Regions from separate parts of the Homo sapiens genome. Here regions 1, 3, 4 and 5 are each reported to be linked to region 2. Evidence: microRNA targets listed by miRTarBase, many of them from high-throughput screens and not tested one by one. Region 2 holds a microRNA gene; each other region holds the end of a gene's coding sequence.

Region 1 (5,095 bases), not on the chromosome of region 2:
TCCATATAACCCTATGATGTAGTTATTATTTTATAGATGAAGAAACTGAAGCATAGAGACATGAAGTAACTTGCTAATAAGTAGCAGCACCATACGCAGGCAAGTCGGACTTCATGAGAAATATATTTAACACAATGCCTGGAATCACAATAAGCACTCAGCAAATGCATATGATTGGGAGAGCAGGAAGAAATCTAAGATCCCTTGATTCAATTCTACTCTACAACAAGGTGCTAAAGGAACTCAGTGAATTCAGAAACAAAATGTAGTTCTAATCCAGGGCCTGGCAAAGAGTCTAGTTAGATTAGAATGATCAAGGATAAGTATAGTAGGTATATGTAAGTCTTTAGAAGACTTCAAAATGACTCAGAAAGTATTTTCACTTATTGTCTACCTGATGACATGTACTCTATTAGTACAGGTCTCCGATTGGGATAAAAGAACAATGGAGTTCTCATAGTAGCATTTCAATCCTGTGGCTAACCTGAGTGGCCCTGGAACCTATTTCCTCACTTCTAAAATAAGGACATGGTCTGAGTTCCCTTTCAGCTCTAATATCCTCAGAGCATATTATTATTATATTAATGTGAACATAGCTTCCCTCAAAAAAAAAAAAGGTTAACTTACAATAAATGAAGCTTTTATGCAGGTTTCCGTAGCGTAGTGGTTATCATGTGTGCCTTGCAGTAAGTGAAGTCTCAGCTACATGAGACTCAGCAGTCTCATGAGCTGCCACTACAGAAGTGTTAGTTTTAGAATTCATAATAATTCCTTTTATTGCCACAAAATAAATTAAAACTGTAGTCATATATTTTTGGATAATACAAATTTGAAGGGTTACTTCGATATATGGGGAAAGATTGTTTCTACTTAGGGGGTGAAAAAAAGAAAGAGTAATAAGGTTTGAATCACACATTGGCCCAGTAAAGCAGACTTCGGAAGATCTGGCAGCAGAACCATGAAGCAGAATTAATTTAATCATGAAAAACTTTACTGACTACTATGTGCCTCTGCTAGATATTAGGGATTAGACTGTTAAGACATTGTCCTTTTCATGTCCTTTAGTAATTGTGAAGTAGGCTATAAGTAAGACCTTAATAGCTAACATTTGGAACAGACCAAACATGGGCAGGAATCCCAGAAGGTAAAGCTCATTCTTTCTGATAGGACCACTTTTAAGTATTTCCAAACTTTAAGATCTAGAAAATTTGTAAGTATTTCTATGTCATGGGTTTCCTATTGTGCAAACCCAATCCAACCTACACATAATCCACCATTTTTCTACTAATCTCAGTGTATCTGTCTTAACATCAGAAAAGCAGACTTCTGCAATAATGACTAATCAAAACTTTTCTGCAGATCCACTGGGACATGGGTTTATCTGGCAGTCCTCAGATAAATCTTCAAAGAACAATATGTAACGGCATTCCACATCCTAGCAAATGACAATGGGAATAAAGATGAGAGTAGCATATGCTTCCGGCAAGTGTAAGCATCACCATCCTAGTAGGTTTAGAAGACTGATGATTATTTATTGTCTAGAATCTTCACAAAATCAAATCACAGTCATCACTCTAGTGGCATGTACATTAAACTATGTGCATCAAATTCCGGCCCTTGAAGAACAAGGAAGCCTACGGATCTGGACAGAGAAAAAGGAAAAGGAATTGCAATGGAAATTCATGTAAGAAAACAATTGCAGAAACAGCTCAATACCTTTGAAAAAGATCCCTATAGTAAGTAAGAAGGTAAGATCCAAGCCATGTAGTTATGCATGCCTCAGAGCACACCTGACTTTGGTCAAAGTCACTAAGAAATTTCCAAGGTAACAATGAAAGAAAGAAAAAAGAGAGAGAGAGACCATCCCTACAAAATCTGAAATGGTTGTTGTTTGTTTTTGAGACAGGGTCTCACTGTGTCACCCAGGCTGGAGTCCATGGCATAATCACAGCTCACAGCAGCCTTAACCTCCGGTGCTCAAGCTATCCTCCCGCTGCAGTCTCCCAAGTAGCTGGGACTACAGGTGTGCACCACCACAGCCAGCTAATTTTCGAAATTTTTTGTAGAGACGGGGTCTCCCTATGTTGCCTGGGCTGGTCTCAAACTCCTGGGCTCAAGCAATCCTCCTGTCTCAGCCTCCCAAACTGCTGGGATTATAGGCGTGAGCCACTGCACCCAGCCTGAAGTGTTTTTAAGAAATGAGAAGCCTCTAGGACTTCTATAATAATCTTTGAAATTGGCATTTATAAGCATTACCTTAAAGAAATTACCCTTTAAAGTTCATATGGATCAAGGGCTGTGATTGCTAACTAGGATCCAAAAAAGCTATGAATAATGTACATACAATACAAATAAAATTTGGTATGCAGTTTGGGAGTATTCCTAAAGCGCATTCATTGACCTCTTCTGTAGTGAGAGAAGCCAACTGCCAAAAAATCACCATCATTTTTGGTTGTTATCTGAAAATGACTGTGAGAGCTCAACTTGTGTTGCCAGGACCTCAAGCCAGTTGGGATCAGGGGCTCCCTGCTCATCTCAACTAGAGGAACTTCCTCTAAATCCAACTTCCCATGGGGCTAGTGGTTTCCTCCACAACATTCCACAGGCCCTATGGTCCCCTGGTGCTGGGCAGCTGGCTTTCTCAGCCAATTGTCACAAACAGCCAACAGCCAAGCCCAAACCACCTGTTGACCAAGCAGTATATCTGCACCCAACCAACAAAGTTATGCTCAAGCTTACCCTATAAGAAGAGCAAGAAGCAAGGGGAAAGTGTCCTATTACTAAATGAAAACTCACTGTGTCCAGAAGCAGGAGCTAATCCTGTCATGATGGTTCTGTGGGGGTGGGGGTGTTTGCTGAGCAGGGGGATCAAGGGACCCATGACCTCTCTTGATGACCTAGTAAGATTCTTCAATTAGACTCATTGCTTAATTCATACCACATGACTTTGTGGAATTCAGTGCAAATCCTGCTGATTATAGCTGGTGACCACAGAAAGACACAGAATTTGCTCTTACCTGTCTTCTAGGACAGGTGGTGATCAAGAAGGATCCATTTTACACAACCCCTTGCCAGAGATTTATGAAACCTCTGGTTTGCTGGTTATTATAAAACATAATGCAGCTGGGCATGGTGGCTCACACCTGTAATCAAAACACTTTGGGAGGCCAAGGAAGGTGGATCACCTGAAGTCAGGAGTTTGAGACCAGCCTGGCCAACATGGTAAAACCCCATCTCTGCTAAAAATACAAAAATTAGCTGGACATGGTGGTGAGCACCTGTAATCCCAGCTATTCGGGAGGCTGAGGCAGGAGAATTGCTTGGACCCAGGAGGCGGAGGTGGCAGTAAGCCAAGATTGTGCCACTGCACTCCAGCCTGGGCGACAAGAGCAAAACTCCATCTCAAAAAAAAAAAAAAAAAACCCACCACATAATGCAAGAACTCTCACCCTAAAGCTAGAGGCAGCAATATGCTCCCCCAAAAAACAAATTATAGTCTCTTACCCCACCTAATGAACTATGAAAGATAACTGAGTAGTCAAATAAATTAATCTTTTAGGTATAATTTCTCCATAGAATAGACTCAATAAAAGAATTGGGAGAAAAGTGCTTCAATTAAGCAAAGATCTAAATACTCTAAACAAGGCCAACCTCTTAACCTAAGCTGATTATTTCCATGCAAGAAAATTTAATTCTATAACAGCAGATATAAAATCAACTTGTAATAATAAAGACAAAAGTTTCAAAGAAAAACCATAAACACAAATGCAAACTGAATCCTGCTTTAATTCAAGCTTGTGGAGAACAAAGTCCTACAGAAACATTCCACAGAATTTTCTGGAAAAGAGGGATCACAACAACCCTGTAAAAAGGAGACTGAGAGTAATTCATAGCTCACCAAGTTCTCTCCGTATCAAATTTCCAGAATACCCACAAGATTTCTTCACCAGCTCAGTCCTGACTCAACCTCTTCAATCTTTATTTCATTAGAAGACAAAGGGTCATATTATTTAAAATTATTCTAGTCTCAAGAAATTTAAAGACTTGAAGTAGTAGAGCATTCAAAACTTAAATAACTTTAACAAGAAAGCCAGCTGATCTTAACAAGTTACTCTGCTAGTAAATGGGAAATAGACTGAATCATCCTAGACATAATTTCATTAGGGCTGCAAACCACCCAGGGGAGAGTAGCACAATTATACCATTTTGTAATCCACATTCACAAGAAGTTTGCTACACAAATGAAGAAAACTTTGTGCCCATAGACAACTTATTTTTTAAAATATCACTCCCCAAAAGTAGCCATGTTTCCACTTTTGTTCCCTTTTCCACATCAAAAATACCAACTTGATTTCTTCAGGAGGAATGGACAATCCAAGTTTATACAGTGGGCTGGAAAAAGAAAACACTGAAAAGTCTAAAAGCACAAAATAAACAAAGCTGGGAGGGAAGACAGTAAGAGTTATTTGTTTCTAATTCATTCTGAAACCCAAGGCTTGTATTTACCAGTCCTTTCTGCTAAAGTCATCCAGCTACTGAAGAGGAGAGCCTGGAAGTAAAGTCTGGAGGAAAGGTAGTTGACTGATAAACTGTCCTACAGGTGACAGTCAAGGAGAGAAGAGGTAGAGGTTTGGTGGTTAATGAATAAGTTCCTGACTAGCCAGCTCCTCTTCTTCTCTTGACTTAGATCAACCAATGTAGATGCGATGAAAATCATTGGCACCAAAAGCAGCATTACACTTGGGACATTTGCGCTGGCGGGTGTCATAGCGTGTCTTCACACACTCAAAGCAGAAGACATGAAAACACTTAGTAAGAACAGCATCCTTTTTACGCATGTTACAGCACGGACAGGTCAAGCGTGCCTAAAAAGAAAAGATGTCAGAGTTTGAACAACCATGAAAGTTTATGATCCAAATGGCTCTCATATACTACACAACCAAGAAGAAAACCCACAAGGCACTAAAAAAAGAGCATCATTTCCCCCCAACCTCCAAAATAAACCATTCTCTGGTTACTATCATGCAAATTATTCTCCCAGTCTATTAGGCCACTTAAAGCTTTGACAAAAAACTAATCACTAAGGCATTTTTTC
Region 2 (5,104 bases):
CAGCGAGAGCACCAGGGATGCCTCCTCTCGATATTGGATGTATTTGCTGCGGATCCTTCATCCCTGGCCAGGTGACCGTTCTCCCCACACAGACTGCAAATACAAACTCATTCAGGCTGTCCCCAAACAGGCTGAGGCTATGCAAGACAACAGAGAGATCCTGGAGAAGAAAAACATGGAGAAGAGCTGGAATTCAGAGGCTGGGTCTGACACCAAGAAACTCCCCGGGAGCAGTAAGGACAGGCTAACCTGCAGCCAGCAGCACCAAGAGGGACCCGGCCGCTGCGCGGGGCCTTGGCCCTGGGTTGGCTGAGGCCAGGCTGTCAGCCCTGGTTTCTCACAGACCTGCCTCACCTCTGGCTGCACCAGGAGGCCTGCAACAGAAGCCACAGTGTGGGGTCAGCAAGTAGGGCAAGAAGTGGCAGGAGGGTGCTGTGAGTCACAGAGCAGGCCAGGCAGAAGTCAGGTGTGGGGTCAAAACAACAGGAAGAGTGTGACTGGGTGTGACTAGGCAGCCAAGGTAGACGGTCGGAGACTCCCTGACTTAGCCTCTCTGTTCTGGCCAGCCTGAACTCACTTTGTGCACCTACTCGTTTAGCCAAGTAAGTGACTGAGAGTCTATCAGACAGCTGTGGATACACCCACAAACAGAGTCCCTGCCCTCATGGAGCTGACATTCTAGGGAGAGTCTAGCAATACAGCTAGTCAACAAAAACAAAACCATAATTATAGCCAAGCGGTGATAAGAGCATAGATGGGAACAGAAGCACAGGGAGTACAGAGTGAGGCAGGCACTATTGTGGGCAAGTGAACAAAGGAGTGGAGAGTGAGGGCAGGCGCCATCTTGGACAAGTGGAGGAGGGAGGAAATGAGAGACAGGGCAGGCACCATCTTGGCCGGGTGGACAAGGAAGGAAATGAGAGAGAGGGCAGACACCATCTTGGCCGAGTGGACAAGGAAGGAAATGAGAGAGAGGGCAGGCACCATCTTGGACAGGTGGACAAGGGAGGGAATGAGAGGGCAGGTACTGTCTTGGACAAGTGAACAAGGAAGAGGGTGGGGAGTGAGAGCAGGTGCCATTTTGGACGAGTAGAGAAGGAAGGCCTTGAGTGGAGACCTGAATGAGCTGAGGAAGGACGTGGACTCCCCCACCTCAGAAAACTCCTTTCTGTACTCTGGCCTAAGCTTTCCTTGTCTTTTAGATCTCAGCTTAGATGCCTCTTCTCCTTCCCTGGTCCCCACACCCAACAGGGCCCCTTCTAGGTACATGCTTATAGCTTTGTGTCATAATTGCTATTGCTATTTACTCTCTTAGGACACTGTGAGCCTTCTGAGGATCACGTGACCTGGTACAGGGCCCGGTGCACTGAGATACCCAGCCTGTGCAAAGGGAAGGCATGCATGAATGGAGGGACTCATTAATATGGACCCAGATGGGCAGGTGCTGGCTGGAGGGCATGGCTCCCCAGAGTCCAGGGCTTTGGTGGCAACCTGAATGGAGAATCCAACATCAGGGCCCCAAATCTCCAGCATCCTCTTTATTACATCACAACACTTCTAATCACATACTTGCTGCCTTCTCTACTTGAGATGACTCTGGATTCTGGACCCAGAGCTCAGGCTGTTACAATGACCGTACATCTCAAGTGAGAGAATGGGGACATGGCTGTCAGATGATCATGGTGGGTGCAATGGGAAGTCTGGAAAATGTCATTTGGATGCTGAAATACTGAAATTCCCAAGAGGTTTCAATGTATATAGAAGTGATAGAAGAATATTTGGAAACAAGACACCTTCAAAAAATTGAAAACATATGATAACCATAATCACGGGATGCAAAGCATCAATTTCAAGGATGTCTCTGGCCCATGGCCCATGCTTACCATGCATTGAGCAAAGTCATGGCCTGCAGGGCTCCTATGGTCTCCCCAGTAGGGACCACATTGATCTCAGGAACTGAAAAGTGCCCTCAAGGGAGAAAAAGAACTAGAGAGCACCTGGGCGAGGCTGCACAAGGCACCACTCCACCCAGACCCCAGTGTCGGTTCATTAAGCATGGAGGCCTGTTCCTCACCACCTGTCCCCAGATCCCCTAGACTCAGGGCTTCCCCCCATGGTGGAGGGCCGCCTGCCCACAGGGTCAACAGATGCTGCCTGCCCCAGCAGGGTCAACACAAATCTGAAAGCCACACCTTCTCCCCTGGACTCACCCAAATCAGAGGCCACATTTTGTTGTAGCTCCACTTCACAGAGCATGGCCCTAAGCTGTGGATTTTGCATCCTTTTCTCCCCACCCAACAAAATCTCAGCTCTGTTACCACCTCTCTGGGAAACCACAGGCTGAGGTCTGACTTGCTTATGATGTAGGCTGCCCTGATTCAGGAACTCAGAGTCTAAATTCAGAAACTTGTGTCTCTGGCCTCCTTTACCCCTGAAGAGGTATAGGGGAGGCAGGCAGGCAGGAGCCTTTCCCAGAGCTGAGCAATGAGGCCACCTCCAGCAACACACTTGGGGAATCACCAACGCCCTCCAACAGTGACTACCCTCTAGCCTGAGAAGGACGTCATCATTTAAGAGGTTTGGGTTTCTGTGGGCAGAGGGTTTAAATGCTGCTTTTTCCCGGCAGTTTCTGCCCCAGGTCAAAGCTTTCCCACCAAGCCACCAACCACCACTGGGAAATGCTCTTGCCCCACAATGTGTCAGCCCCGACTTAATCAGAAGTGGTGACTGAGAGGCAGCCTCAGCCTGGTCCGTGACTTCCCCAAGACTCTTCCTGTCAGTCCAGGGAGTTTTTTCCTCAGATGCCCCCCAGGAGGGTCCCTGCAGGGGGAACGGGGCTACTGGAGTCAGGGAGATGCCTCTCTCTGCACGTGGCAGTGGAGGAAAATGGGAGACAGGGATTCTTGATTGTGTGAAATTCAGAGACTCCTAGGCTCCAAAGCAAGAGCAGATGCTCCAGGTAGAGGGCAAAGGGCAAGAGAGCTGGTGATGAGCAATGGGACCCCAGGCTTTCGAGGTTGCAGCCACGTCCCCTAGTAACTGCCCTTCAATGACTGCGAGGCACCTTCACCTCCTCCTTGGCATCATACCACATTGAGCCCTGGAAAACCCTTCCTGAGCAAATGAGGATCAGCAACCCGGAAGAAAACCCTGCCCCATACCACTCCCGTGTGGGTATCTGATTTGCACCCCTCAGGTGAGGGCGTTAGGTGCAGAGACTATCACACTTTTCCTCTTGTTCTGGATCCCTAACCTGCAGACTGGGGTCTACCTGTCCATGCCTTCATGGTTTGCAAGTTAAGAGGATGGTACTGGCTACAAGGCTGGTCCCTACCAGCTCTGTGCAGGAATGGCACCGGCACATAGCATCACTTGGCTGGAAAACCCAAGCTGAAGGGAAACACCAAGAGCTATTCCTTACTAAAAACAAGGAGAGGCTGTTCTTGACAGCTTATTCCAATCCCCATCCCACAAGGCTTTGGCAGAGCTTTTTCTTGTAATGCCCACCCCTGCCCCCCATAGCAGAGACACCCAGATATCCACAGGGCTCATCTCTGTTCATCTTTTCCCTGCTTCCCCAGAACTGGGGACCACAAGCCCGAGATGGAGCAGGGACTTAGGGGCTGCTAGGCCCCCAAACATGGAAATAAAAGAAAATCTTGAGTATCTTCAAGGGAAATTCTAGGCTAGCCCCAAGAAGTAAATGAGCAACTTGGTAAGAAAGAAAGAAATAGTAGCTTAAAGCAATAGTCAAAGAAGTTAGAGTCAACCTCTGATGACTCTCTATAGAAACTAAAGAGAACATCTTAACATATGTCCCTGAGGTGTTTTTCAGAAACCCAGCTGGATGTTTTTCAGAAACCCAGAACCAAATGGATTTGCTGGCATATAGACCTCAAATGAGGGGAAACTGAGGCCTGAACTCTGATTGACGGACTTTTTTTTTTGAGACAAGGTCTGGCTCTGTCACCCAGGCTGGAGTGCAGTGGCATGATCTCGGCTCACTACAACCTCTGTCCCCCAGGCTCAAGCCATTCTCTCCCGCCTCAGCCTCCCAAGTAGCTGGGACTACAGGGTGCATGCTGCCATGCCCAGCTAATGATTGTGTTTATTCTTTATTCTCCAGTGCCACAGAATAAAGGAAAATTCCAGGCACCTAGCTAGCTCTGAGGACCTGGAAGAAGTCACATCCACAGGCCAGACCTTAATATTCCTTTCTGCTGAACCCAAGTTTTTAGACAAAGTTTCCCTTCCTTAACCAATTGCAAATCAGAAAGTCTTTGAAGCCATGTATGACCTGTAAGCCCTTGCTTCCAGATTTCCCACCTTTTTAGGCCAAACCAATGTATAACATCCATGTCTTGATTTAGAAATTTGCCTGTAACTTCTGCTCTCCTGAAATTTACCATTGCCTTTAAACAGCCTTGCTTGTAAGCCATCCAGGAGGTTGAGTCTTAAGTGTGAGCTACCAGATTTTCTTTGCTTGGTGCCTTGCAAATAAACACCATGCTTCCTCCCACTGCACAACTTCAGTATGGATGTTTGGCTTTACCATGCCAGGCAAGAAGATCCCACTTCGGTTTGGTTACAAGCCCCATCAACACCCTGTGACCAAGGTTCTTCCCTTTGATACAGAGAAGCAGAAAGAGAAAAGTGCTGTCACCTCAAAGCCCAGACCAGAGCATCCCTGCCTGGTTTCACTGTGTAACCCTAGGAGAGGAAAGTGGTTTGAGGGAACACAGGGCAGGAGACTGGCTCCTGGCTGGGTAGCCTCCTTGCTGTCTCCCAGATCAAGGGGCTCATTGTTTCACCCCACAACTTTTCTGGAGTGTCAATTCCAGCCTCGGCTTGGAGCTCTCTGCCTCACTGCAGCCCCAGACCACAGCACCTGCCTCCCCATTCCTCAACCTGTTGTACTGAGCCTGCCCTTCACCCAGGCCCCACCGGGACCAACCCCATGGTCCTCAGCCACCCTCCTTCTACAGGCCCCAAATCTCTCAAAGCTTGAGCTTGTTCCCCAGTAAAGAGGGTACAGCTGAGGCACAGATGAGGCCAGGTCATGGAGAAGATCAAGGCATGGGTCTGGACAAGGAATCTTAGCATT
Region 3 (5,104 bases), not on the chromosome of region 2:
CAACTCTAGCATAGCATCATATGATGCGTAACATTATCCTTTTTTAAATTAAATTAAATTTTAAAAAATTATTTTTAGTAGAAACACAGTTTTCCTATGTTGCCCAGGCTGGTCTTGAACTCCTGATTTCAAGTGATACTCCTACCTTGGCCTCCCAAAGTATTGGGATTACAGGTGTGAGCCACCACACCTGGCTACAAACTTCCTTAACTTAAACATTCCTTTCTGGTAACTCCAAGTTCTTAGACCACACTTTGTTCTTCTAAACAATTACAAATTAAATAATCTCTGGCCCCGCACGGTGGCTCACGCATGTAATCTTAGCACACGCCTGTAATCCCAGCACTTTGGGAGGCTGGGGCGGGTGGATCACTTGAGTTCGGGAGTTCAAGACAGGCCCGGCCAACATGGTGAAACGCCGTCTCAACTCAATTGCACCACTGCATTCCAGCCTGGGCAACAAAGCAAGACTCTGTCTCAAAAAAAGAAAAAAAAGACTCTCTGAACCCACCTATGACCTGTATTCCTCTGCTTCAAGATATCTTGCCTTTTGGGACCAAACCAATGTATAACCTCCATGTATTGATTGATGGCTTTTTGTGTAGCTTCTGCTTCCCTGAAATGCATAAAACAGAGTTACATTCTGACTGCCTCAGGACTACTTACTCAAGGTTTCCTGGGTTTGTGTTTTCTCCAGGCCACGGTCACTTCACATTGGCTCAGGTTAAACGTCTCTGAAATATTTTTCACAGTTTGTTTTTTTACATTAAGTGCTGGGATTACAGGCATGAGCCACCGCGCCCGGCCACAAAGGTTTTTTTAAAAATGTAGTTTTTTAAAAAACAAAGGTTTTTTTAAAAAACCTTTGTGGCCGGGCGCGGTGGCTCATGCCTGTAATCCCAGCACTTTGGGAGGCTGAGGCGGGCAGCTTACCTGACGTCAGGAGTTTGAGACCAGCCTGACCAACATGGAGAAACCCCATCTCTACTAAAAATACAAAATTAGCCAGGCATGGTGGCGCATGCCTGTAGTCCCAGCTACTCGGGAGGCTGAGGCAGGAGAATTACTTGAACCTGGGAGGCAAAGGTTGTGGTGAGCCAAGATCGCGCCATTGCACTCCAGCCTGGGCAACAAGAGTGAAACTTCGTCTCAAAAAATAATAAATAAATAAATAAACCTTTGCATGTTGTTATACTGCCCTGAAGCAGTGATTCTGAGAAGGGTCAGTCTCTAGGCAGTAGGCCAAACCAGTGAGATCATAATGTCTGGTAAGATCAGTGTCAGTCTGTTTTCTGTTACTATAACAGAATATCACAGATTGGGTAATTTATAAAGAAAAGAAGTTTATTTAGCTCATGGTTCCGAGGGCTGGGAACTGTGGAGGGGCCGTATCTGGCCTTCTTGCTGTGTCATAACATGATGGAAAGCATCACATGGCAAGATGGCAAGAGCATGCATGTCAGCTCAGGTCTCCCTTCCTCTTCTTATAAAGCCATCAGTCCCATCATATGGGCACCAACCCCCATGCCATGTATAACTTTTAACTCCCCAAAAATGTAACTACTAATAGTCTACTGTTGACCAGAGCCTTACTGAAACAGTCGATTAACACATATTTTTTATGTTATACATATTAGACACTATATTCTTATAATAAAGCTAGAGAAAATATTAAGAAAATCATAAGAGAAATTATATTTAGTAAATATAATTCACTATATTATATGGATCATCATAAAGGTCTGTATCCTTGTCATTTTGTTAAGCAGGCTGAGAAGGGGAGAGGAGGGAGACTGGTCTTGCCATCTCAGGGGTGACAGAGGCAGAAGAAAGTCCATAAGTGGACCCACACAGTTGAAACCCAAGTTGTTCAAGGACCTCCTGTAATCTCTAAGAAGGTTCAGACTTTCCCTAGTCTTCTCTTCTAAGCCTTGGCCAAAATCACCCTTAATGCTCCATTAGATAATACAGGCTTTGTCTGACCTGATCTTCCAGATTTTTCAAGCCTCTACCCATTACTCAGTTCCAAAGCCACTTCTACATTTTTATGTAAATGTCAGAGCAGCAAACCTACTTATGGCTATCAATATTCTGTCTTGTTACATTTTGTGTGGCTCTAACTGAATACCATAGACTGGGTAATTTATACAGAATAGAGGTTTATTTAGTTCACAGTTCTGAAGGCTAAGAAGTCCAATATAAAGGTGCAGGCATCTGGTAAGGGCTTACTTGCTGCATCATGACATGGCAGGAGGCATCAAAAGGCAAGACAGAGCAAGCATGTGTCCCAGTTCCAGTTGCTCTTCCTCTCCTCATAAAGCCACCAGTCCCATCATGGAGGCTCCACCCTGATGAACTTGGCTAATCCTGATCACCTCTTAAAGACCCCCCACCCAGTACTGTTACAATGGGGATTAAGTTTCAACAAGAATTTTGCTGGGGATATTCAAACAATAGCAATCTGCACACTGAAAACATTTCTTGGTGTCATCAAAACAGTTCTTTATAAAACTAATTTAAAAGTGCCACCAATAAAATTCAGATTTAATCATAGGGAAATCTGGAGTAGGTGTGAGGACATATCCAAGGGCCTGCATAGTAACTCATCAGGAATGGACTCACTTCTGAGAAACTACAGCAAGTCATGGTCAGGTTTCTCTTCTTTGCCTCTGGTGCTCACCAGTGTGATGCCAACAAGTTCCATCCATGTACAGCTTTAGAGATTACTATACTCAGGCATCTACCCTAAAGGGTACAAGTCCAAGTCACTTTTTGTACCTACATATATGAGTGGGTACTGAAATTCAACAGATATGAAAAGGAATAGAGGCTGGACATGGTGGCTCAAGCCTGTAATCCCAGCACTTTGGGAGGCTGAAGTGGGAGGATCATTTGAGTCCAGGAGTTTTGAGACCAGCCTGGGCAACATGGCAAAACTCTGTCTCTACAAAAAATACAAAAATTAGCTGGGTGTGGTGGTGTATGCCCCCAGGGCTCAAGCAATCCTCCCACCTCAGCCCTCTGAGAAACTGGGAGGCTGCACTACCTCCCAGCTTCTTGGGAAGCTGAGGTGGGAGGATTGCTTGAGCCTGGAAGGTCAACACACTGCAGTGATCCATGATCGCACTACTGCAATCCAGCCTGGATGACAGAACAAGAACCTGTCTCAAAAAAAAAAGGAAAATGAAAATAGAGAAGGAACCCAAATTGAAAAACCATATCCCCTTCCAATAAAGCTCAAAGACATAATTTTACATTATTGCTATCAATGCCAACTCATCACTTCATTTTCTTTTTGCATAAAAGGACCCTCATAATTTTTTATACTATCAAGGTAATAAAAAATTCCAAGTCTTACATTCTTTCAGTGAGCCTTGCCCCTGGTCCACCAAATGGCCCTCCTTAACTCCTGAAAGCAGGCCAGATGCAGTGGCTCATGCCTGTAATCCCAGCACTTGGGAGACTGAGGCAGGTGAATCACCTGAGGTCAGGATTTTGAGACCAGCCTGGCCAACATGGTGAAACCCTGTCTCTACTAAAAATACAAAATTAGCGGGGCGTGGTGGTGCATGCCTGTGGTCCCAGCTACTCGGGAGGCTGAGGCATGAGAATCACTTGAACCCTGGAGGCAGAGGTTGCAGTGAGCCAAGATCACACCACTGCAAACAGCCTGGGTGACAAGAGTGAAACTCCGGCACCACCCCCCACCCCCTAAAAAAAAAAAAGCTCTTGAAAGCAATCATTGGACACTTTATCTGATTATGTTCTCCCATAGGCTTTGCATTTCTCCTAGTCTCTAATTATAATGCCCCATCTCATCATAATCATAATGCCATATGCCCTAAACCCCAAAATGTTCTGCAAACTCTTCCAACTCCAGTAGCCCCAGAAGAGAGATGCAGACTGATAATACAGCCCAAATGTGGACACGATAAAGAATAAGTACTGCCATTTCCTACCGGGGGATAAAAGAAACTAATCAAACATGGTCCTTAAGCGTGAGAATTTAAAATGAAGTTAGGAAAACAGTAACAACTTATACAAGACAAGACCAGAGGAATATCAATAGACACAATCAGGAGACCAGTGGAATCCCTAACTTGAGGTGCAAAGGATTTTGAGAACGTGACGGGGCTTACAGGGAGTGAGACAAAGGATTCGGGCTCTGAAGGGATGACTTCCCAGGAAAAGCGAGATCCTGAAAAAAATGTGCTATTTGGACAGGTGAAGGGTTGGCCTTTTCAGATGAGGGAAGCAGCAGGAAGAAAGGCACAGAGGGAGGAAGTACCACTGCATGTGAAGAAGATAAGGGAGGCCCTGGTGGGGCTAGGGCAGAGCAGGTATGTTGGGGAGGCAGAGGAGAGAGGATGGCGCAGGGACAGTAGGGCTTAACTGCGGATAGCCCTGTTCCATTGATGAGTTTCTTCCTAGTATGCCACTTCTGATGCTGGATGAAACTTGCATTCCATCTGAAGGCTTTCCCGCACTCCTTACACTCATAAGGTTTCTCCCCAGTGTGAACTCGCTGATGCTGAACCAGAGTGATCTTTTGACTGAATGTCTTCCCACATTCCTGGCATTCATAGGGTTTCTCCCCATTGTGGATTCTCTGATGCACTATGAAGCGGGAGCTACAGCTGAAAGTTTTCCAACATTCATTACATTTGTAGAGTTGTTCCCCAGTGTGGAACCTCTGGTGCTGAAGAAATACCGAACTGCGGTGGAAGGCCTTGCCACACTCTTTACATTCATAAGGTTTCTCCCCAGTGTGGATTCTCTGATGCTGAATCAGAACTGAATTAGAACTCAAACTCTTCCCACACTCCTTACATTCATAGGGCTTCTCCCCATTGTGAATTCGTTCATGGATGATGCAGTCATAGCTACAACTGAAGGCTTTCCCACATTCCTTACATTTAAAGGGCTTCTCCCCAGTATGGATTCTCTGATGCCGAATCAGTTTTGAATTATAACTGAAGGTTTTACCACAGTCAGTACATTCATAGGGCCTCTGTCCACCATGGAGCTTCTGATGCTGAAGAAGGTGGGAATTTTGACTGAAGGCTTGTCCACATTCCTCACATGAGTATGGTTTCTCTCCAGT
Region 4 (5,104 bases), not on the chromosome of region 2:
ATAGCTATTTGCCTCTAGAAGCAATTGTTCATAATGGAGGCATATTTTCCTTTGTAGAAATTCACAGCTGTGAAGAGAAAGTTTCCCAGTGAGTTAATAAGTTGGCATTTGTCAGAATTCTCTCGGGTCAAAGACTGAGTTTTTTGTTCTTAGTGCTAATAGAACCAAATCACCTGCATTTGAGTATTTAACACGTTGGAAAGCCAACCCAACTTAAGGTCTTCTTTTTTGTAATGAGTAATTTGAAAGTGAAAGCTTCTTGAAGCATGCAGTCAAAATAAAACGCATGGGCGTTTATTTAGTAAAGCTAAATCGTGTAGCTTTACTCAGTCTGTTGAACTGGCAAATGTTAACTCCCCTTTATTGTTATACTTTCTTATTAATCATCCTATTCATAAAAATCCCATGACTGGGGAAAATGAACCCGTTAGGGAAACTCACTGCTATCAGTCTAATCCAAGCCACTATCAATAACTTTCTTACTGGTATCCCTGCTTCCACCTCGTCTAGCTATTATGTGTACCATGAAGATAACTGAAGCCAACCTGCCTGGGTTTAAATCCTAGCTCTGCAATAGCTGTATTGCCAGTTCCTTAAAAAAAAAAAAAAAAAAAGGTATAAGAGCTTTGAAATGCTAAATAAGCTCTTCATGCACATGGCAACTAGAGCAGCCCTTGTAAAATGTCAGATGTTAATGCTTTGGTTGACCTCCTCTAAATAACTTTACACTTAAAAAATAAAATCCGAACTCCTTACTAAGGCCTGTTAAGTATGCTTCTCATTTTATCCCCCATGTTCCAGTTACACTGTACTCGTCCCCAGAGATACTAAGCAGTTCTCTACTTCAAGACTTTTGCACTTGCAATTCCTTCTTCCTGGAACATCTTTTCCCAGATTTTTGCATTGCTCATTTCCTCAGGTGGCTGCTCAAATATTCAGTGTCCTTCTTCATCGAAAATAGCACACCCCCAGCACACATATCCTCAATTCATTTGTCTCCTGCCTCATTTTCTTTTTCTCTTTTTGCTATAAAGCACTCATTGCCACTGACTTTATATGGTTTAATGCCTTTCTCTCCAAACTGAAAACAGCTCCTGAGCACAAGGGTTTTGTTTTGGTCATTCCTGTAGTCTCAGCACCTAAACCACCACCTGGCACTGGTAGTTCTTTGTAAATACTTGCTGAATAGATGCTGTATTTAAAAAGCATTTTTCCCCACTAAGGACTTTTGAGAACCTTAACTTACTATGCTTTTCGGTTTGTTTTTCTTAGTATGCACCTAACATTTCCTACTCCCATACTTTCACTTGATCCACATCCTCTCATTAGGTCACCACTCACTTAAGAAAGATCAACTTTGGGCTTTTAGAAGGTTCTTGTTTGCAAAGGGTAAACAAGCACAACAAAAAATGATACTGTTTTCAAAGGGAAGTTTTAAATACTATTAGTAAATTAAATTCTAGATGAAACAGCCATATTTTTCAAACATTGTTTTTAATATACCTACCTATAAAGATCTATGGAGAATTCACATCAGATCATGAATGGATAGTACTTTATGATTAGAGCATACAGAGAGAGTTACAATTAAGCTTTTCTTTTTTCTTTTACAGGTTAATGACTCCAGAGAGTAAGATCAGATTCGTCCACAAAGAGATGGGCATAATACCAAGCTGGGGTGGCACCACCCGGCTAGTTGAAATAATCGGAAGTAGACAAGCTCTCAAAGTGTTGAGTGGGGCCCTTAAACTGGATTCAAAAAATGCTCTAAACATAGGAATGGTTGAAGAGGTCTTGCAGTCTTCAGATGAAACTAAATCTCTAGAAGAGGCACAAGAATGGCTAAAGCAATTCATCCAAGGGCCACCGGAAGTAATTAGAGCTTTGAAAAAATCTGTTTGTTCAGGCAGAGAGCTATATTTGGAGGAAGCATTACAGAACGAAAGAGATCTTTTAGGAACAGTTTGGGGTGGGCCTGCAAATTTAGAGGCTATTGCTAAGAAAGGAAAATTTAATAAATAATTGGTTTTTCGTGTGGATGTACTCCAAGTAAAGCTCCAGTGACTAATATGTATAAATGTTAAATGATATTAAATATGAACATCAGAATTACTTTGAAGGCTACTATTAATATGCAGACTTACTTTTAATCATTTGAATATCTGAACTCATTTACCTCATTTCTTGCCAATTACTCACTTGGGTATTTACTGCGTAATCTGGAACATTTAGCTAAAATATACACTTTTGGCTTAAAAATTATTGCTGTCAATTCCAATAATAATTCTTAGCTTATAACCAAAGAGCAGTGTTTAAAAGGAGAGCTTCTATACAAAACCTATTCCTGGCGTTACTTTTCATACAATTTTTGTTCTGTTTTACCTGGAAATAATTTACCAAAATAACTGAGTGTTGCTGCTAAAGAACAAAAGTGGGGAGGTATCAGGGAACAAGAAAACAAGAAAGGGTATGATCAATCATTTTCTTCTGCTCCAAACAGCTGGAGTAAAATTCATGGGAAATGGCCCTTCATTTAAAAAAAGATGTACCTCACTACCCACTACAAATTTGGAACTTTGTTCTTTTCAATAATTAGTTTTCTATTGTAAATTACCTACTAAACAGTGGTAGCCATGACATGGAAAGTCAACTGATTCTACAATTGGACATTCATTTGTGTGCCCTGGAATTTCCAACTAGTAATAAACAACTACTGTTGATGTAGTTTTAAACCACTTGAAGGGACTCATGAAGCATCCTGCAACATAAATTTGCATTTTTACATCAGATTTCTTTTTTTTCCTGAAAAACAACTAACCTTCTAACAACTATCTTTCAAAAGTAAATGTAATAAAAATGCACAACATAAAATGTTTATGATCCCAGCAATACACTTTTTAAAAAATGTGAAAGTCAAAGAATTAAGTTCTAGTTCTGACTCATCACAAGAGGTCAAAAGTATTTGCTACTGTAACATTCAATTCACATTTGAGAATCATGGTAAAAATAACTTGCATTTGCCTTACCATCATGATCCTACTGTTGAGTTAGGAAAATATGGTTAGACAGACTCACATTACTTTTTTTCAGAGGTAAACTCTAGATTACTGTGTCAACCCAATACTATTTGGCCATAGATGTAAAAACTACCAAATAAAAGTGGATTTTGTGGTCTACAACATTTTGTGTAAAGTGAATTCATGTCTGCTAACACCGTTAAGTCTGCCATTTAATCCAGAGTGTTAGACTACTAATGAATATGGTAAGGAAAATATAAAATATTAACGGTATATGCTATTTGAGGAATTTTAAGTCTCACAGGCTTTAGTTTTATTTCCATACATGTTTATTATATACACACTGCCTATAGATTCTGTTTAAATAATCTCTAAGAAAAAAATCAAACTTTTCTGAGCAGGTGATTAAGCTGAAAACAACCAATTAAAACCACCACTTTTTAAGTGACCTTTGGTCACAAATGTCAAAATGTTTCCACACCCTTTCCACCCTCAAACAAGAGACAAACTGTTTTTGATAAACTCTAGTATTTATTAAATTATAAATTTTGTAATCAAAAAGAAAAATGCAGACCAAAAAAACCTCAAACTATAAGACTAGACAGCAAAGCCTATGGGAACACCATGAAGTGTGTTACAAACATTCTGAAACATAAGTTACTGGCTGTTTTCATTTCCATTTCAATAACTTTACTATAAAATAGTTGTTATTCATCTATTTTGAAATCCCAAATTCACATCTATTCATACATTAAATTATGTTTCCTGTTCATAATATCAAACATCTCACAGGTGCCAAATTTTAGTAATGGTCTTATGCCAATCCATGCAGAAAAATAAGACACAATGCAGGAGTCAGATGAGGACCATTAATGCACAGATAATACAAACACACTGGCCAAAAGAACTACAGAAGTTTTTAAAAAGTATAAAGTAAACAGACCTCAAGAAAACTGGGTTATTACTAAACAGCTCTCAACTATTAACACCCAAGTTCCTTACATTAAATAAATTTCTCAACAGAGACATGTTAGACATTTTAATTATGAGTCTATCCTTCCCATACCCCTTCCCACCCCAACTCCCAAAATGCACTACTAGGGATGAGTATAATGTTATGTGGGCAGAAATTTACAGGTAACCCTTTCAACCTTGAGCATGGAGCTGAAGACATTTTTATTTAAACTTCAGTTACTGTGCACTGTCCATCAGGCCTTCTAGATCTGACACTGACACTCACTGTTCCACCCCCTGCTACTGATCGATCAGTTCCCGATCGATCTGATCGATCGGGTACTGTCTGGTTTGCATTAGAAACCAAAAGTCTCTGTTGGGTCAAGGAGTGCTGTGCAACAACTGCAGATACATCCTCACTATCACTACTGGCATCTGATTCAGTTTCTTCAATGGAGGTGTCTGGTGCTGGTACCCTGCCTGAAGATGGTGATTCATGATCTTCTTCTCCTTCTCCCCTATGACTCCTTTCAGCTGTGTTGTCTCCACTGAGTTGTAAATGAGCAAAAGAGTCTTCCAGAGAAGTGCTTGCATCAGGGGATGGTGTTGCAGGGCTTGTTAACTGACCATCTACTGATGTTAGGGGCCTTACAGAAGACACTAGGGGCTGAACAGAAGCTCCACTCTGTGCTGATACACTGTCCGCTCCGTCAGCAGAGCTCTCTCTTGCTAGGTTTACGGTATTAGCATCACAGTCTAGCCTAAGTCCAGCTACTCCCTTCTTTGGTATATCTATTATATCTCGCTTAATCTTCCTGCGACGTCCATGTTCATTTCTCCTATATTGAACCATGTTTTCAAGATCAGCGACATACAGAAAGCCAGCAATTAACATTTCAGTGTTCTTTTTACCTTTGGAAAAAGCATCTTCCAGCTCTCTACTAGTGCGCTCATCGTACTGCCACCACCCATTTCTTCCTTCATAATACCATGCATATTCACCATTTCCTCTACTTGCTGCCTTGAGTTCTTCTGGTGACAACAAGGTTGGCTTGTCAAGGAAATCCTCGGGAATTTCTTGTCGACAAAGAGCACACCGCTTTCCAAGCCATGAAGCTCCTTTTACACATAGA
Region 5 (5,104 bases), not on the chromosome of region 2:
ACAGTCTAGATGCAGGCAGCTAGAAGAGTTATTTCCTCCAAGCTGTCTAGGAAAAGGGACAATTAAAGAGAGATTCTGCACTTATTATGATATAAAAAAAGAAAAACAATGAGAGAACATAGTACTCTTTTACCTGTGACGTTAAATGGGAGTCACACAGGTTTAGCTATCTGTTCTAGGAGTGGATGAACAGACTATTCTCCCATGTCACTTCTTTCCTCCTGGACACCTTCAGGGAGACAGCTGGGTGAAGAATCATACTTCTGACCTCTGTCAAACAGGGTCAGATGCCGCAGAGGTTCTGAGATGATAAAGGAAGTGACAGAGGGAACCTGAGGTACCACATTTCTGATTTGTCATGAAAGTCTTACCTTGCTTAAGATGACTTTTTTAATGTTCCTTTCAGGGAAAATGCCAAGTGGAATAAAAACCAACATCAAGTCGGCTTCCATGCATCCCTACCAGCGGTGAGTGTGGCTGGCAACCTCGACTCCCTGGTGCTCTTTGCAGAGTTGGGCAGTGAAATTACCTTTTGCTCAAGGCTCACCTAGATGGGTACAATAAAAAGAACATGGGCTTTCAGCAGCAGACAAATCCCACTTCCACCACTGACTAGCTGTGTGACCTTGGACAAGTGACCTAATTTTTCTGAGCCTGTTTCTCATTTGTAAATGGTGATAATACCTACCTCATAGGGTTGTTGTGAGGATTAAAATGAGGAAATGAATGTAAAGCACTTAGTACAGTATATGAAATAATGGGTATTCAATAAATGATAGTTTCTACAGATCCTTCTCCCCACCACCCTCCACAGTCCTTGATCCAGAACTTACCCTAATCTGATACTGCCTCACGTCAATGGTGAGCTGATGGACACAAGATCAAATAAGGCTATGCTTATTTTGTGCTGCCAGAAACTGTAGCAACCTCTGTGTTCTTAGAGGCACACTGTTTTTGCAGGCCCTCCTGCCTGGGTTTCATTCTGGCTATCCCTCTAAGGCGCAAGGTGAAGAAGCTTCTGGGCCAGGAAGGAAAAAAAAATGCCCACCTGCAGCTCTGGTGAAGCTTGGGCCTGCTCTCCTTTCCATCCTCTAAGGAGCCAACTTGGCTTTTACCTGTCAAATAGTCATAAAGTCCCCTATCCTTTACCCCACCTTATACACACGAGGCTTTCTCAGGAAGTGGCTCTGCCAGGCAGGACTATGTGGGAAAGGGTTTTTCCTTAGCACACGAAAAAGCCCCTTCCCCTGGATTCATGTTTCTTATTTTGGAGGGAGAAGGGAATTGCACTTCACACTGCCATCAGGGTTTAGTTGACCTCATAATGGTGCCCACTTTCTCGACTTTGGCCAGGATTTCCTTCAAAGAAAACGACTTTCCTTCATTTCCCTAAGCCTGTGGCCCAAATGGTGGACCAGAATGATGGTGGGAGGGGGCAACCCCCAGTAGCTTTGCCTGCTTTTATAAAGTTGAACAAATTGAATTTAGACATTCAGGCTAACCTGCCTTTCTTAGTACTCCTTTGTTGGCATGGGCAGGGGTTGAGTCAGCAGAAGTGGACCAAAGGATTCCTCTGAATAAAGTTATTTAAATTGATGTTCACTGGCTCAGGGTTGTCTGACAGTAATTTATGAGAGCACTACATAGGGATCAGAGGGGCAGTTTCAAGAGTGCTGCAAGGCAGTTCTAATTTGTTCTCCATAAAAAAGTTTCCGTATCTTTAATTAGCTTTGATCTAAAAATCCTGAAACTTCCCTCCTGCTCATACCTTCCAGCTGCCTTTTTTCTGTTCTGTCACACACTGGTACTTTGGCATTTGTTCAGTGCCAAACAAAGTTCTGCCAGGCTGTGGCAGCAAAGGACTGGAAAAGTGGTCCCAGATGTCACATCTGTTACCATTCCATCAAGGTGAGGAATGGTATCCACAAAGCTCACTGACCACAATACATAGCAGTAGGGGAGTCTGGTCACCAGCTCTAAGGCAATGCCAGACCTTTCCCCCACTTAAACTGTTCCGGCTCATCAGCCCACTCAGGTGTTATCTTCTCACCTCTTCCCTTCCCACTGGAAATGTCAGTATTAACTGGCATATTGGGTAGAGTTTGAGCTGTGCTTCTCTGAAATTCCTGGAGCATCTTTTGGTGACTATTGTCCTTTACTCCACCAAAAGATTCCCTCCTATTGAATGGCACCAACCCCAAGTTTTTTTGTGTCCCAGGCAAATACTGACTTCATCCCCACCATACTATTAAAATGGATTCCTTGTCATCCAAGAATGGAAATATCCTCTTGCCCCAACAGGAACATATGCAGGATGTCACCTACATCTTGTTCCCCTAAGCAAACACTCCTTCCTCTAGAGGGACTCCTCTACATTCATCACCGTAGGAGCACATGCTGTCGTTTTTATCCCCCATCCTCAAATCATCTGGAGTACACAAATCTCAGTAGTGTCTCCCACTTTGGGGTCCATACAGCCTATTAAATGCCTCAATAGAGAGTATGTATCTCCCACCCCTAACATACTCATTCCCTCAGGAGGGAATACATATACAGTTTTCCTTTGAAGAAGGGGACATGACCTATTTACTGGCTCAGATTTAGGATTTGCAAAAGGTGACTATTGGCCTACTCTGGTAACATTCCTCTGTTTTTGACTGTCCTGTTTTGCTTGGAGATCGTGCTTTCTCCTATTCTTGGGTCCCCTGGAGAAAGAGATTAGGCCATTGTCTCCTAGGTTTGTGTCTAGGATGGAGAAAGAAGCAGCAGCTGTGAAACGTCAAGAGCTTACTACAGGACAGAGTTCATCCTGCTGAAGGCGGAAGCTTATCCAATCAATGTCAGCATAAGGCCCATTGCCTAGGATCTCTCCCTCTCCAGCTCTGCCCTGAGCCTGGGATTCAGTCATTGCTGAACCTCTCTTTTGCTCATTGTGCCAGTCACCCCATTCTGTTCCCCTTCTGGTGTTTATTGCTGCCCTACTTAGCTGGTGTACCTCATTCAACCCTGTCGTTTTTTGGGAAACAGCCAAGATAGATAGGTTGTAGCCAAGTGCTCCTTAGAACTCCATAATGGGTCCCAGCATTAGGATTGAGCTGGAGGGGGTGTAATTGCCCACCTCCTGTTGTGCTGCCACAGAGAAGAAGCTGAACTCTGCAGGAATGCCCCAGTGCAAGGCTGGTCCCTTTTCCCACCCCCCTCTCACCTCCCCCAGGCAGCTGGAAACAACCTCTCCCTTTGTCTGAGCTTCTTGTACAGAATAATCCTCCTTATGGACAATGTATTCTCTGTGCCCTGTGGACACAGGAGCTGTGTAAGCTGATCCCAGCACCAGGCAGGACGGAGGCTGAGTCCTTCCAAACGCCCACCCTGGGTCAGCTCCTGATTACTGTCCAGATGAACTACGAAGGAGTGTACATTCTCTTCCATCTGCCTTTCCTATCTGCTCCAGAATTAGGGGAATAGCCTACTGAAGTTTAGCATTGGGCCAGGAGTAGGAACAGGGGATGTGGTCCTTTTCTGTTCAGTCTTGAGGGTTCACAGTGCCTGCTTATGGAGGCTCGATGTGGCTCTTGCCTGGAAACCTCAAACACATGGGGACTAACCCTTGGAAAGGGCTTGCCACTGTGCAGATGGGGCTTTATGATTGGAACAGAAGGCAAACTCCAACGCATCTGATGGGACCATGGTGCCCCATCACTTCAGCATGTGTTTTGTCCCACAAGACAAAGTTCCTTTCTTCTTCCCTTTAACTTCTCTTTTTTTTTGAGCTCCATGTGTCACTGAGGCAGCTCTTGGGTTCCTGTTGTGGTCTCTCAATGAGTCACATGCCATTTGGACATGGCAGCTTCCCTAAGTACATCGTGGACAAGGCATCTCACTTCCCTAAGCCTCAGTTTTCTCACTTGGTGATCCCAGTGATCCTTTTTAGGTCTAAAGTCTGTGGCAATGATTTTCAAACCCATTTATCCCCAGGCATTTTGTTTTGTTTTGTTTTCCTTGGTGCATGACTGTTACATAAATAGGCCAAAATTTTCCTAGATAAGCCCCCAAGTCCCTCAGACTCCTATAAACTGTTCCTGAAGTTCCCTCGCTGTCACCTACACCTTAACATACCAACACCCTTGTAGACCACAACCTTGAAACTGTTTTCTAAAACATCTTTCTCTAAGTGAAGATTCATCAAAGAGATGGTAAGTTACCACAAAGTTATCACAAGTTACAAGTTCTGACATACCTTGTGTGTTAGAAGTCGCCCTCCCCCTCACACATCTCTCTCTCCTTGGGCAAGATACATGTACCAAAGAGACTCCTCCAGTATAGGCAATAAATTATACTTCTTCCACATGAAGATAACCTTTCCTACTGAATCAAATATAAGTGCCTTGGGATGCTCGTCTTCCTATGTTTTCTCTGCCATTCCACTGCTTTCCCTAATTCTCACCCTAATTTCCCTAGTTTGTGGTCATTTTGATTCTTCATCTTTTCTTGCCCACATTCCCTACGTAGATATCCTTTGTTCATTTTTTTTTTTTTTTTTGAGACAGGGTCTCACTCTGTCATCCAGGCTTGAGTGCAGTGGCACAATCACCTCTCACTGTGATCCTGCAACTCAGGTGGTCCTCTAGGCTCAAGTGATCCTCCCACCTCTCAGCCTCCCAAGTAGCTGGGACCACAGGCATGTGCCACCATGCCCAGCTAATTTTTAAATTATTATTATTTTTAATGGAGACAGGGTCTCTATGTTGCCCTGGCTGGTCTCAAACTCCTGAGCTCAAGCGATCCTCCCACCTCAGCCTCCCAAAGTGCTGGGATTACAGGTGTGAGCCACCACACCCAGTCTATCCTTCATTCTTTTTGCCAGTTTCTCTGGGCTACATTTCATGGCCTTAGATAGTGCCATTTTAGTGTCTCTTCCATGTTAAAAGATCCTTCTTAACCCTACATCCCCTCTCACTGACTCACTCGCGCCATGCTCTTGAAACAAAGTGCTTAGAATCACTGTTTCTTTTACCTCCCATTCACTTTTCAACCCCTGTGTTTGGGCTTCTACTTCCACCACTCCTCAGAAACTCAGAGATCACTGTTGACCTAATGGCTAAAT

The links. The annotated mature microRNA hsa-miR-4287 reads UCUCCCUUGAGGGCACUUU and lies in region 2 at 1,961-1,979, opposite strand. An mRNA with a match to its seed (bases 2 to 7 or 8) in the 3' UTR can be bound and repressed. Matches are read on the target gene's strand: a 7mer-m8 pairs with bases 2 to 8, a 7mer-A1 pairs with bases 2 to 7 and ends in A, and an 8mer does both.
Region 1: the mRNA of RNF20 is a reported target of hsa-miR-4287. The part of its 3' UTR that is shown has no 7-base or 8-base seed match.
Region 3: miRTarBase lists ZNF619 as a target of hsa-miR-4287. Seed matches in the 3' UTR shown: 8mer at 1,470-1,477.
Region 4: the mRNA of RNF146 is a reported target of hsa-miR-4287. The part of its 3' UTR that is shown has no 7-base or 8-base seed match.
Region 5: miRTarBase lists MED8 as a target of hsa-miR-4287. Seed matches in the 3' UTR shown: 7mer-A1 at 1,272-1,278.

What each region holds. Positions count from the first base shown.
Region 1 is chr9:101,562,016-101,567,110 of GRCh38, reverse strand. RNF20 (ring finger protein 20) reads right to left here. Exons shown (of 20, transcript NM_019592.7): 20 at 3,767-4,865. The coding sequence ends at 4,689. Among named protein-coding and RNA genes, the nearest start is that of PPP3R2, 30 kb to the left of the region's middle.
Region 2 is chr8:27,884,128-27,889,231 of GRCh38, forward strand. It overlaps MIR4287 (microRNA 4287), which reads right to left and starts at 1,989; the gene lies at 1,912-1,989. The region is part of intron 7 of SCARA5 (scavenger receptor class A member 5); the gene reads right to left.
Region 3 is chr3:40,487,273-40,492,376 of GRCh38, reverse strand. ZNF619 (zinc finger protein 619) reads right to left here. Exons shown (of 5, transcript NM_001145093.4): 5 at 1,324-5,104. The coding sequence ends at 4,136. Among named protein-coding and RNA genes, the nearest start is that of ZNF619, 13 kb to the right of the region's middle.
Region 4 is chr6:127,286,787-127,291,890 of GRCh38, reverse strand. It overlaps RNF146 (ring finger protein 146), which reads right to left. Exons shown (of 3, transcript NM_001242850.2): 3 at 3,329-5,104. The coding sequence ends at 4,198. ECHDC1 (ethylmalonyl-CoA decarboxylase 1) reads left to right here. Exons shown (of 6, transcript NM_001002030.2): 6 at 1,614-3,179. The coding sequence ends at 2,022. Among named protein-coding and RNA genes, the nearest start is that of RNF146, 22 kb to the right of the region's middle. RefSeq lists a silencer at 1,035-1,094.
Region 5 is chr1:43,380,409-43,385,512 of GRCh38, reverse strand. It overlaps MED8 (mediator complex subunit 8), which reads left to right. Exons shown (of 7, transcript NM_201542.5): 7 at 407-1,596. The coding sequence ends at 471. MED8-AS1 (MED8 antisense RNA 1) reads right to left here and starts at 464. Exons shown (of 2, transcript XR_001738027.1): 1 at 372-464; 2 at 1-229.